Linked DNA regions of Homo sapiens: region 2 is linked to region 1. The links come from fine-mapping of genetic effects on gene expression. A gene starts in region 1. The other region holds a variant in brackets. All regions are shown on one strand. Distances are from middle to middle. Region 1 holds the start of NSMCE1 (NSE1 component of SMC5/6 complex). Region 2 overlaps NSMCE1 (NSE1 component of SMC5/6 complex).

The links. PIP is the estimated chance that this variant, and not a neighbour inherited with it, causes the effect.
Region 2: its variant is fine-mapped to the expression of NSMCE1 in whole blood (TOPMed, PIP above 0.99).

What each region holds. Positions count from the first base shown.
Region 1 is chr16:27,266,261-27,271,631 of GRCh38, reverse strand. NSMCE1 (NSE1 component of SMC5/6 complex) reads left to right here and starts at 2,860. Exons shown (of 8, transcript NM_145080.4): 1 at 2,860-2,926. It overlaps NSMCE1-DT (NSMCE1 divergent transcript), which reads right to left and starts at 3,427. Exons shown (of 5, transcript NR_037184.1): 1 at 3,388-3,427. RefSeq lists a silencer at 2,887-2,966.
Region 2 is chr16:27,225,017-27,230,387 of GRCh38, reverse strand. It overlaps NSMCE1 (NSE1 component of SMC5/6 complex), which reads left to right. Exons shown (of 8, transcript NM_145080.4): 6 at 3,552-3,668; 7 at 4,542-4,662; 8 at 5,152-5,371. The coding sequence ends at 5,231. Among named protein-coding and RNA genes, the nearest start is that of KDM8, 24 kb to the right of the region's middle. The variant C/T (reference allele first, on the strand shown) is at 3,029.

The DNA of each region.
Region 1 (5,371 bases):
AGCTGGGACCACAGGTGTTCACCACCATGCCTGGCTAATTTTTGCGTGTGTGTGTGTGTGTGTGTGTGTGTGCGCGCGCGCGTATATATTTTTTTTGTAGAGATGGGGGCCTCACCATGTTGGCCATGGCTGATCTCAAACTTCTGAGCTCAAGCCATCCTCCCAGCTGGGCCTCCCAAAGTGTTGGAATTACAGGAATGAGCCATCATGCCCAGTCAAAGATTGAAAACCCCAACTTTAAATATTGATAATGAATAGAAAATTTCACAAAACCATGTAGGGCAAACAAAACACAAATATTACTCCTTAGGGCTTTATTTCCCCTCTTATTTGACTACCTATTAGGCAGTTTATAAAGAACTTATTAGTGGTGTTAGTTCACACTTATTGAGGGCTTACAATGTGCCAGAGACACTCTTCTAAGTAGTTTACGTTTACTCTTCCTTTAATCTTCAGAATAACATTATCAACAAAGTGTTATTATTAAACCTGCTTTATAGATGAGCAAACTGAAGCTGAAAACTTGAGCTCAGTCATCCCTTAGTATCTGTGAGGGATTGGTACCTTAGTCCCCATGGATACCAAAATTCTCGATGCTCAAGTCCCTTATGTAAAATCAAAACCACCTTTGTAAAAAGCATAACTGAGAAAATTATGATAGTGAAAGAGATCTGGCCTGACTCCATCTTGCTTCTAACTTCCAAGCTGTCCTTGATCATTCCTGGACATAGGTGGAATTAATGTTGGAAAGAACTTAGTTTATAGTTTAACTTTGAAACAAAGGCAATAATAGCCCTTTCCCAAAACAAATCCCCTCCTTGCCTAGGAACGGGTCTGCCTTTGTAGACTAACAAATTAGCTAAAAGATTAGAAATTATGGTTTAGGAGGTCACGCAAGCTGGAGGCTACAAGATTCTGACCCTCCCCAGATTGCTTCCGGGAGTAACATCACTGTTCTAAAACCTAAAATCAGTGCTTGAGATATTTTGCAGAACCCGTGTTCTAATGCACCAGCTGACGCCACCCAGCCCTGTAATCTGGCTAATCTGGTCCTATGGTCCTAACCCAGGATCTGACTCAGTGCAAGAGGACAGCTTTGACTCCTTTCCTCTCTGATCCAACCTATCAACACTCTCTAATCCCCAGCACCTCCAGCCACCAAATTATCCTTGAAAACCCTGAATTTCCAGGGAGACTGATTTGAGTAATAATAAAACTGTGGTCTCCTGTTCAGCCAGCTCTGTGTGAATTAAACTTTCTCTATTGCAATTCCCCTGTCTTGATAAATTGGTTCTGTCTAGGAAGCAGGCAAGGAGAACCATTGGGTGCTTACAAAATGCGAGAATACTTGCATTTAACCTACACAAATCCTCCAGTATATTGAAAATCATCTTTAAATTACTTACAATACTTAATACAATGTAAATGCTATATAAGTAATTGCTATGCTGTATTGCTTTCGGAATCTGTATTATTTTTATTGTTGAACTGTTATTTTTTACTGTTTTCCCCCACAAATATTAACCACCCACAGTTGCTTCAATCCGTAGATGGGGAACCTGTAAACATGGACAGCTGACTGTACTTTGTCCTATGTCTCAGAGACACTGAGTTTAAGGCCCAGGATTCCATGTTGACCATCCAGCTCCAAAGCTGAAGCTTTTAATCACCACACACCACTGCTTTCCCACTTAGCAGATGAAACTGAAGCCCAGAGAGGTTAAGAGGTTGTCCAAGATCACAGGGGTGGTGAGTGACCAAGCCTGGATTTGATCTATCCTCACAGAGACAGATATTTGCAGGTACTGCTGTTCTATATTAGTTACCTGTTTCCCTTGCTAGGCTGCATCCCTAGCTCTCAGACCAGGGATAGAATTCAAACGTTTGGAAAATTAACGCCTTGAAGACTCAAAGCAGTCCATTCACTTCCACGAGTAATTTCACTTGCTTTCTCACAATCCCTAGGTAAGATAACAGTTAACATATAATCAGCACTCCCATGTGACACTTTTCAATGGCCATGCTAAGCACCTGATATAGGTGTTATTATCTCTTGTAAATCTCACCAACACTATTTTGCAAGAACTAATATCCTCATTTAATGGAAGAGGAAACTGAGGCTCAGTGACTTGCCCAAGCGCCTGCCAACTAGTAAGTGGCAGAGCCAGGATTCTAGATCAGGCTCTATGACCACAGAGTCCACATTTTTCTTTTCTTTTTTTTTGAGCTCTGTCACCCAGGCTCGAGTGCTGTGGTACGATCTGGCTCACTGCAACCTCTGCCTCTCGGGTTCAAGTGATTCTCCTGCCTCAGCCTCCCGGGTAGCTGGGATTACAGGCACACACCACCACGCCCGGCTACTTTTTGTATTTTTAGTAGGGACGGGGGTTTCACCATGTTGGCCAAGCTGGTCTCGAACTCCTGACCTCAAGTGATCGGCCCGCCTTGGTCTCCCAAAGTGCTGGGATTACTTACAGGCGTGAGCCACCGCGACCGGACCAGAGTCCACATTTTTGACGTCGAGGCCACACTCAGTTCCACAGATGGGGAAACTGAGGCCCGGGGCAGGGCACTACATTGTGCCAGCGGAATGGTGGCCATTGAGGGAAGCCCAGGCTGCACGCCAATTCTTCCTCCTTGGTCAGGGAAGTCACTGAGGTGCAGGAGGCGGAGGGCGACAAGTGGAAGCCCCTTCCCATTATTAAGGATCGAGAGCGGGCGTAATTTGGGATCTAACCCACGAGGCGGAACCACCAGGGCAATGGCGCAAACGGAGAACCGGAAGTGCGTCACTCAACGGACGGGCGAATAAGCCGCAGGCCACCAATGGGAACGCCGCGTTCGCGTTCGCCCCGCCTCAAAGGAAGAAGAGTCCACCTTGCGACCGTATCCGCTAGCGCGGCCTGGGATGCGCTTGGGCTCCCTGGTGGGTAACGTGGGGAGCTAGGGGTTGGAGGGGAAAGAAGAGGGACTTCAAGGAAGGCGAGGGGAGGACGGAAGGTGGGGTGGGCGAGACAGGCAGTGGGGTCCGGCCCCGGGGTCGGTCCCCGTGGGCTGTGGAACTCGGGGACTGGGGTCTTGGGGTTTCCCCCTTCTTGATGGGGAAACTGAGGCCCAGACAGGGGCCGCAGAAAACAGCGGACTGGGATGTCCTCCCGCAACACACACGCAGACATCTAAAAATCTTACTATTTAGTGAAAAATATTTTTAATCGTAATTACGATTTAACAGGTAAAGATACTTTTCATTGTAACAGGTGAAAAAGCAAAATATAAAATTCGATTCAAACTGTGATTACATCTATGGAAAATACAGCCTTTGCCGACCACCCTCTTTGTCCCGCCGCCCTCCGTGCTCCCCTCTGTTTTGTGTACGGAGTTTCTTACTTTGTACAAGTCCGCAGCCGCTTATGTTACAGCCCCGAGGCCAGATGCGTTTAAAATCGAGGAGTTCTCGGAGTTTGGAAAGGTAAAGTCCCTATGTTCTATGTTAGGTTTCACCCTCAGAGGGGGCTGGAGCAGCGGCTTGTAATCAAATACACGACCCTTTCCACAGCTAAAGTTATGAAGATACGCATATATTACATTGACCTGGTCGCGGTGGCCCACGGCTATAATTCCAGCACTTTGGGAAGCTGAGGGGGGCGGATCACCTGAGGTTCGGAGTTCGAAACCAGCCTGGCTAATATGGTGAAACCCTGTCTCTACTAAAAATACAAAAAATTAGCCGGGCGTGGTGGTGCGTGCCTGTAATCCCAGCTACTCGGGAGGCTGAGACGGAAGGCTGAGGCAGGAGAATCGCTTGAACCCGGGAGGCGGAGGTTGCAGTGAATCAAGATCGTGCCACTTCACTCCAGCTTGGGCAACAAGAGCGAAACTCCGTCTCAAAAAAAAAAATGCATATATTTACACTGTTGGGATAAATAACCATAAATAGCCTCACCTTAAGTCAGGTCAAGTTTTCCAACTTAAACAAGTTTTGGTATTCAGACTTTTTTTTTTTTTTCCCCTGCATCCGATCATCCACTAGTATTCATACCTTTTTAGATTTGAGGGTTGCAGATGAGGGACCTGGATTGTAGTTGTTCTGTTCACTCACTTTTCTCACTCTCGCTGGATAGAGAGTGTCCTTGAAAACAGGAACTGTGCTGTTGTATGGTCACGTCTATCTCTGCCACCAACTCTTGTGTGTCACCTTGTGCCCTCTTAGTCTCAGTTTCCTCATCTGTAAGATGGGGTCAGTGACCCTTTGCTCATAAGGTTGTTCTGGTTTGGGTTAAATGAGGTCGGGCATGTGAAGCACTAGAATTGTGTTAGCACCCGCACGAATGGTATGACTGAGATTTACTTATTCCACAAACATTTCTATTTTAAAATTATTAAATTTAAATAAATTGATTTAATTAATGCATTTAATTAATTTAATAATAAATTTAAACGTATAGATGTATTTCTTAAAATGTGGGTGATAGGAATTTTAAAGATTTATATAATGCTTCAAAAGCCTTCGAAAAGGTTTTTTTAATTGGTTTATCTGTATATATGAACTCTTGAAACTTATGGCTAAAACACTAGGATTTATCTGCAAGGTTGCAGAGAGATAATTCTGCCTTAAATTGGCTAAAACAAAAACAAAACCAGCCAACCTATATTATACATGGGATTAAAACCAATTTTTCTCCCATTTTTTTTCTCCTTTTTTCTTTTGCTGCCCACATTATGCCTTATTTTATGAGCCCCAGTTTTCTGGGCTTAGTTAAAAAAAATTCAGTTCTAAACATTGAATTTAGGGAGTTTTTGTTCTTGAATAAAAAGGCATATACTTAGAAAAAAAATCTGTTTATCCGGGAAAATATATTGAAATCATGCTGCTGAGCCTCTATTTTCTTTGATGTTTTGGTTCTGTATTATTTTATCATAACTTTTTAGCATTTAAAAATTTACTGATGTACATTTAAAGCCAATAAACTGTTTTAATTAATTTTTTTAAAAAAAGTAATTTTTTTTTTCTTTTTGTGACAGAGTCTCGCCCTGTCGCCCAGGCTAGAGTGCAGTGACGCGATCTTGGCTCACTGCAACCTCCACCTCCTGGGTTCAAGCGATTCTCCTGCCTTAGCCTTCTGAGTAGCTGGGATTACAGGCGTGCACCACCACGCCTGGCTGATTTTTGTATAAAATAAAATTATTTAAGTAGGTAATACATGTCTATGCTAATCCCACCATTCTCCCTACAGTCTCTTCTCATAGAGACAAGGGACATAATATGCATAAACAAGCTTATGGTTGTCTTTCTTCCACTCCTACTTTTCCCACTCCTTTTCCACCAAATTATAGCATTCAATCCTATCCTGTTCTCATTCTCATTTACATT
Region 2 (5,371 bases), 41 kb after region 1:
ACCTCGATCAGAGAGACCACATGTCAGTGTCTGATCCTTGGCCTCTCAGACACAGGGCTTCCCACAGAAATAGCCAGGGGCCCACTGACAAGGCCCTTCCAGGTGGGTATATCACCCCAAGGACACGTCACTCCTGGACAGCCAGTCCTGTGTGAGACTGGCCCGGCATGGAGGTGCTGAGGCAGCTGTCCGTCCAGGAGAAGGCCCAGGGGTGGTAGGTGGTTGGGGTCAGCGGGGAGGCCTCTGAGAGCAAGCGCGGCTCATGGGAGCTGGGCGTCTGCTGATCGGCGCACCTCCATACACCCCAGGACTGCTCCCTACACGAGGTCCTGACTTCCAAGTGTTGTGGCGAGGCGCCTGGGAGATCACCTGGGCTGTCGTCGTCTTTGAGGGCTAGGGCATCCCTCCTGCCCCTCCCCTGATGGGCCCTCAGAGGACTGAGTGGGTCATGAATGGTGAGCCTTGGGTGCAGTTTCAGGCACATAGCAGGTGTTCAGTAAATGCAGCTTGGCTGGGTGCAGTGGCTCAAACCTGTAATTCCAGCATTTTGGGAGGCCAAGGCGGGTAGATCACTTGAAGTCAGGAGTTTGAGACCAGCCTGGCCGATATGGTGAAACCCTGTCTCTACTAAAAATATAAAAAAGTTAGCTGGGTGTGGTGGCGGGCATCTGTAATCCCAGGTACTCGGGAAGCTGAGGCAGAAGAATCGCTTGAACCCTGGAAGCAGAGGTTGCAGTGAGCTGAGATCGTGCCATTGCATGATCTAGCCTGGGCAACAAGAGCGAAACTCTGTCTCAAATAAATAAATAAAAAATAAATGCAGCTCCTGCCTCAGTCTGAGCTTGAACTTGCTTAGTGTCAGGCATTCCTTTGGGATCAGTGCAAGGTCTACTTCATCTTCCCGTGGGTGTTTATCACAGGCCTGCCAAGTGCTGGGCCCCACAGCAGGTGCTGCGGACACAGGAGTGAGCACAGCCAGAGCTGGTGGCCGCTCCCATGGGGCCATGGTCTGGAGGGGGAGCCCGAGATCAGTGAGACGGTCATCTCACTGCAGTCCTGGTACAGATGGAAAGGAAACATGGCTTTATGACAGCTGTCCCAGAGGAACCGGCCCTCAGCTGCTGAGGAAGTGACACTTGAGCTGAAGGCTGTGTGGGAGTTGCCTGGAGCCTGGGGTGGGAGGATCATCAGCCCGGCAGTGGCCCTGTGGCCAGCAGGTGCACTCAAGAAGCTAAGGCCAGGGCCATCTGAGCACAAAGATTGCGAGGCGAGCAGACGGAGGGCAGCCCGGGAGATACGCGTATTAGGGGCTTGGCTCTTGGACCTAAGGGTGGTGGGAAGCCCTGGGGTGGGGGTGAGTTGGGAGTGACAGGGCCAGGCTTGTTCGGTAGCGAGTGCGTTGCTGGAGGAGAGTGGGCTCAGAGAGCAGCAGGAGCAGGGGAGGGTGGAAGAGGGTGGAGGCCGGGGAGGTGGGTTGCCATGATGGATCTGTAGGGGAGGGTGGAAGAGGGCGGTGGCCGGGGATGTGGGGTACCATGATGCATCTGGAGGGGAGGGCGGAAGAGGGCGGTGGTTGGGGGTGTGGGGTGCCATGATGGATCTGGAGGGGAGGGTGGAAGAGGGTGAGGGCTGGAGAGGTGGAGTACCATGATGGATCTGGAGGGGAGGGTGGAAGAGGGTGGTGGCTGGGGATGTGGGGTGCTGTGATGGATCTGGAGGGGAGGGTGGAAGAGGGTGGGGGCTGGAGAGGTGGGGTACCATGATGGATCTGGAGGGGAGGGTGGAAGAGGGTGGTGGCTGGGGATGTGGGGTGCTGTGATGGATCTGGAGGGGAGGGTGGAAGAGGGTGGGGGCCAAGGAGGTGGGGTGCCGTGATGGATCTGGAGGGGAGGCTGGAAGAGGGCGGTGGCCAGGGAGGTGGGGTGCCATGATGGATTTGGGAGCTTTGGGGGAAGGTAACAGCCATAGGACTGAGGACCGAGGACAGCCTGGGGGCTGGTCACATCCTCCCATTGCCCACAGCACTTGGATGACACAAAGCCCCTGTGCACCAGCAACAGCTGCGGTGCAGGGCACAAGCACCTGGTGCCCCGGCCTCCCTCCACTGTTCCCGCAGCGGCTGTCCATGCCCCAACCCCACGCTTCTGCCCTGCCTTCCTTCCTGTGCTCACCCAGCTCCTCTACTGGTGTTCCAGAGCGAACGCACTGTGAGCCCAGATTACGCAAGCACACCCCTCCACATTGCACTGTGGGGATGAAGGTGGGAATGGGGTGGGGGGCTCTACCTGTCAGAAACGGGAGTGGGCTGGGTGCGGTGACTCACGCCTGCAATCCCAGCACTTTGGAAGGCCGAGGTGGGCGGATCACCTGAGGTCGGGAGTTCAAGACCAGCCTGGCTAACATGGTGAAACCCTGTCTCTACTAAAAATACAAAATTAGCCAGGCGTGGTGGCGCATGCCTGTAATCCCAGCTACTCAGGAGGCTGAGGCAGGAGAATTGCTTGAACCCGGGATGCGGAAGTTGCATTGAGCCAAGATTGTGCCATTGCATTCCACCCTGGGCAACAAGAGCAAAACTCCATCTCAAAAAAAAAAAAAAAAAAAGAAAAGAAAAGAAACGGGAGTGACAGCTCTTGCTTGTAAAAATTAAAAATTAGAAAATAACAGAAAAGGCAGTTGAGCACTCGGGTGACTTGCAGGCGTCAGTGACGTCATCTCCTGGTGTGGTTCATATCCGATGCATGAGCTGACTGTGGAGAAACTGGAATCAGCCTGCATGGGTCCATGTCCTGGGTCCCGTGTCATTTGCCTGCCTTGGGTCTCCCTCAGTGCTGCCTTTCTCCTGTGACCTGGCAGTAGGGTCGGCCTGGGGAGCTGCATTGTTCTTGTGCTTCCGGGCTCTCCCAGGGATTTCAGGATGCATGATGGGTGGACCGCACCCTGGCATGGGAACCAGGAGGCCTGGCTTCCACTGGAGGCTCCACTGCCCACAGTGTGATGGGGCCTGTCTGCCCTCTCCAGACTCCTT[C/T]CAGCTCCATCTGTAAAGTGATGTGGCTGGAAGTGATCTCTGAGGGTCCCTACTGCAGTTGGAGGCAGAAGTGCTGGGAGGCAGAAGTGCTGGGAGGCACCAGGGATGCTGCTTTTTGGGAGTGGGATGGGTGGCGGATGGCAGCAGTGGGTGTTTGGGTTTGCACCCTGGGGAGACTGACCCCCTTGTGGGCCTCAGCGTCCTCATCTGCAGGAGGGCTGTGACTGCCTCCCTCGAGGCTGCCGTGCAGACAGAGAAGTCACGTCTGAAGGCACAGCAGATGCTGAGAAAAGGCGGGTGTCAGGGAGCCACGCCTCCATGTCTTTAGGGTCTTTGCCTCAGTTTCCCTTGCCGAGGCTCTGCCAGGGGGATGTGGCTGATGCCCGTTGGCTGGGGTTGGTGAAAAGCTGCGTAGACCCTTGTGTCTTCCTGAGCACTGGGCTGTGGGATCACAGAGGGAAGAGAGGTGGTGAATGGGGAGAGGGCCTGGCTGAGGGTGGCCACCTCCTGTGTGTCCCTGCAGAAGGAAGGGGAGTTCACCCTGCACGGCCGGGCCATCCTGGAGATGGAGCAATACATCCGGGAGACGTACCCCGACGCGGTGAAGATCTGCAATATCTGTCACAGCCTCCTCATCCAGGTACCCGCAGGGCAGGGCACGGGAGCTCATCACTGGGCCCTCGGCTCCCGGGGCTCTGTACAGGTACTTCCCGGAATCCTGGCTCTGGGCCCAGCCCTCCTGCACTGCTGGCGCATCCTCCCACAAGAGCTGGCGGAGGCCATCTCCCAGGACGTGTCAGGACGCCTCCCTGCTGTGCCCCGCAGGGACGCACTGCCGCCCTCCTCCCTGGTTCTGCTGTTGGGGTCCAAGGGCCCTCGCTTACTTTATTTTTCTCAGGAAGGCTGAGTGTTCTGTGCAACCTGCATCATCTTGGTAGTTTTGTAGTGAGTGTCTCTTGTCGATTGCTGCTTTCTGGAGTGGTCTTAACACTGGTTTGCAGGGCTTTGCAACCGCTGAACCAGCGTGGACATTGATGTGTCTTTCAGTTTCTATCGTTTTGCAGCTGTAGCTGTTTGTAATTGCAATTGCTCTTACGGGCCTCGTACACCTGTATCCTTGGGCACCTGGTGATTATTTCCTTGGGCGGAGTTTCTGGGACAAAGTGCACTTTTTTTTTGAAAGCTTTTGATTCACATTAGCAAATAAGCTTCTGAAAAGCTGTGGCTGTCCACACGCCACCTGCAGGATCTGAGTGCAGGAGTTTGGGAGCCCTCGGCTTCTGTCACTGCGTTCATGTGTTCAGAATTGTTTAGTAAAACCCACCGCAACAAGCAGCAAGCAAACAAAAGACTCCACTGCACTAAGGCGTTTGGGATTATTTTCAATATTAATCTGGGGCCCAGAAGATAACACGATGCCACCTGCTGCCCATTTCCCTTGTGGCTTCCCCGGAGGTTTGCAGAACATGGAGGTGTGCACCAGCTCCGCCGTCATTGGCCTTTCCTGTTTCAGGGTCAAAGCTGCGAAACCTGTGGGATCAGGATGCACTTACCCTGCGTGGCCAAGTACTTCCAGTCGAATGCTGAACCGCGCTGCCCCCACTGCAACGACTACTGGCCCCACGAGATCCCAAGTGCGTGGGCCCTGAGGAGCTCATGGGAGGGGCTGGGCCAGCAGGACGTGGGGCCTGGTGCCAGGGAAGCCCTTGGAGACAGGGCCCTGAAGGGCTCCAGGGTGTGTGGGGGTCCGTGTTAGCAGCTTGAATCCTAGAAGAAGCCACTGCAGGAAGTAAAGGCTGAGCTACGTGCACCGCTCCAGAGGACTTTCTAGAACCCAGCTGAAATTCCAACGTGTATGAGCATTTTGTCTAGACAAGGCTCTCTCTCTGGCAGCCCTCTCAGGAGGGGGACGTGAAAGCTATGTCCACAGCTCCCTCAGTTTGTTCCTCTCTGAACTGGGGCTAACTCTGCCTTCCTCACGGGCTGGGGAGGGTTAGCAGTGAAGGATGGTGTAGACCTAGGACAGTCCTTGGCACAGGAGACGTAGCTGCTGGCTCCAGCTGGTGCCCCTGTGCTGCCAGCCCCTCCATTCACTGTGTCTTTCCTGCCTTTTCTGTCTACAGAAGTCTTCGACCCTGAGAAGGAGAGGGAGTCTGGTGTCTTGAAATCGAACAAAAAGTCCCTGCGGTCCAGGCAGCATTAGCCATCGTGCCCTGCTGAGGGGCTGGCTGCCTTGAGTGGCCTGATCGCCACAGCCCTTCTTGGAAGAAAGGCGTCCGTGTTTCAGGTTCCACGCGAGTCACCTCTTTCGTCTTAATGTTCACCGTCCACAGCTTTGGAATA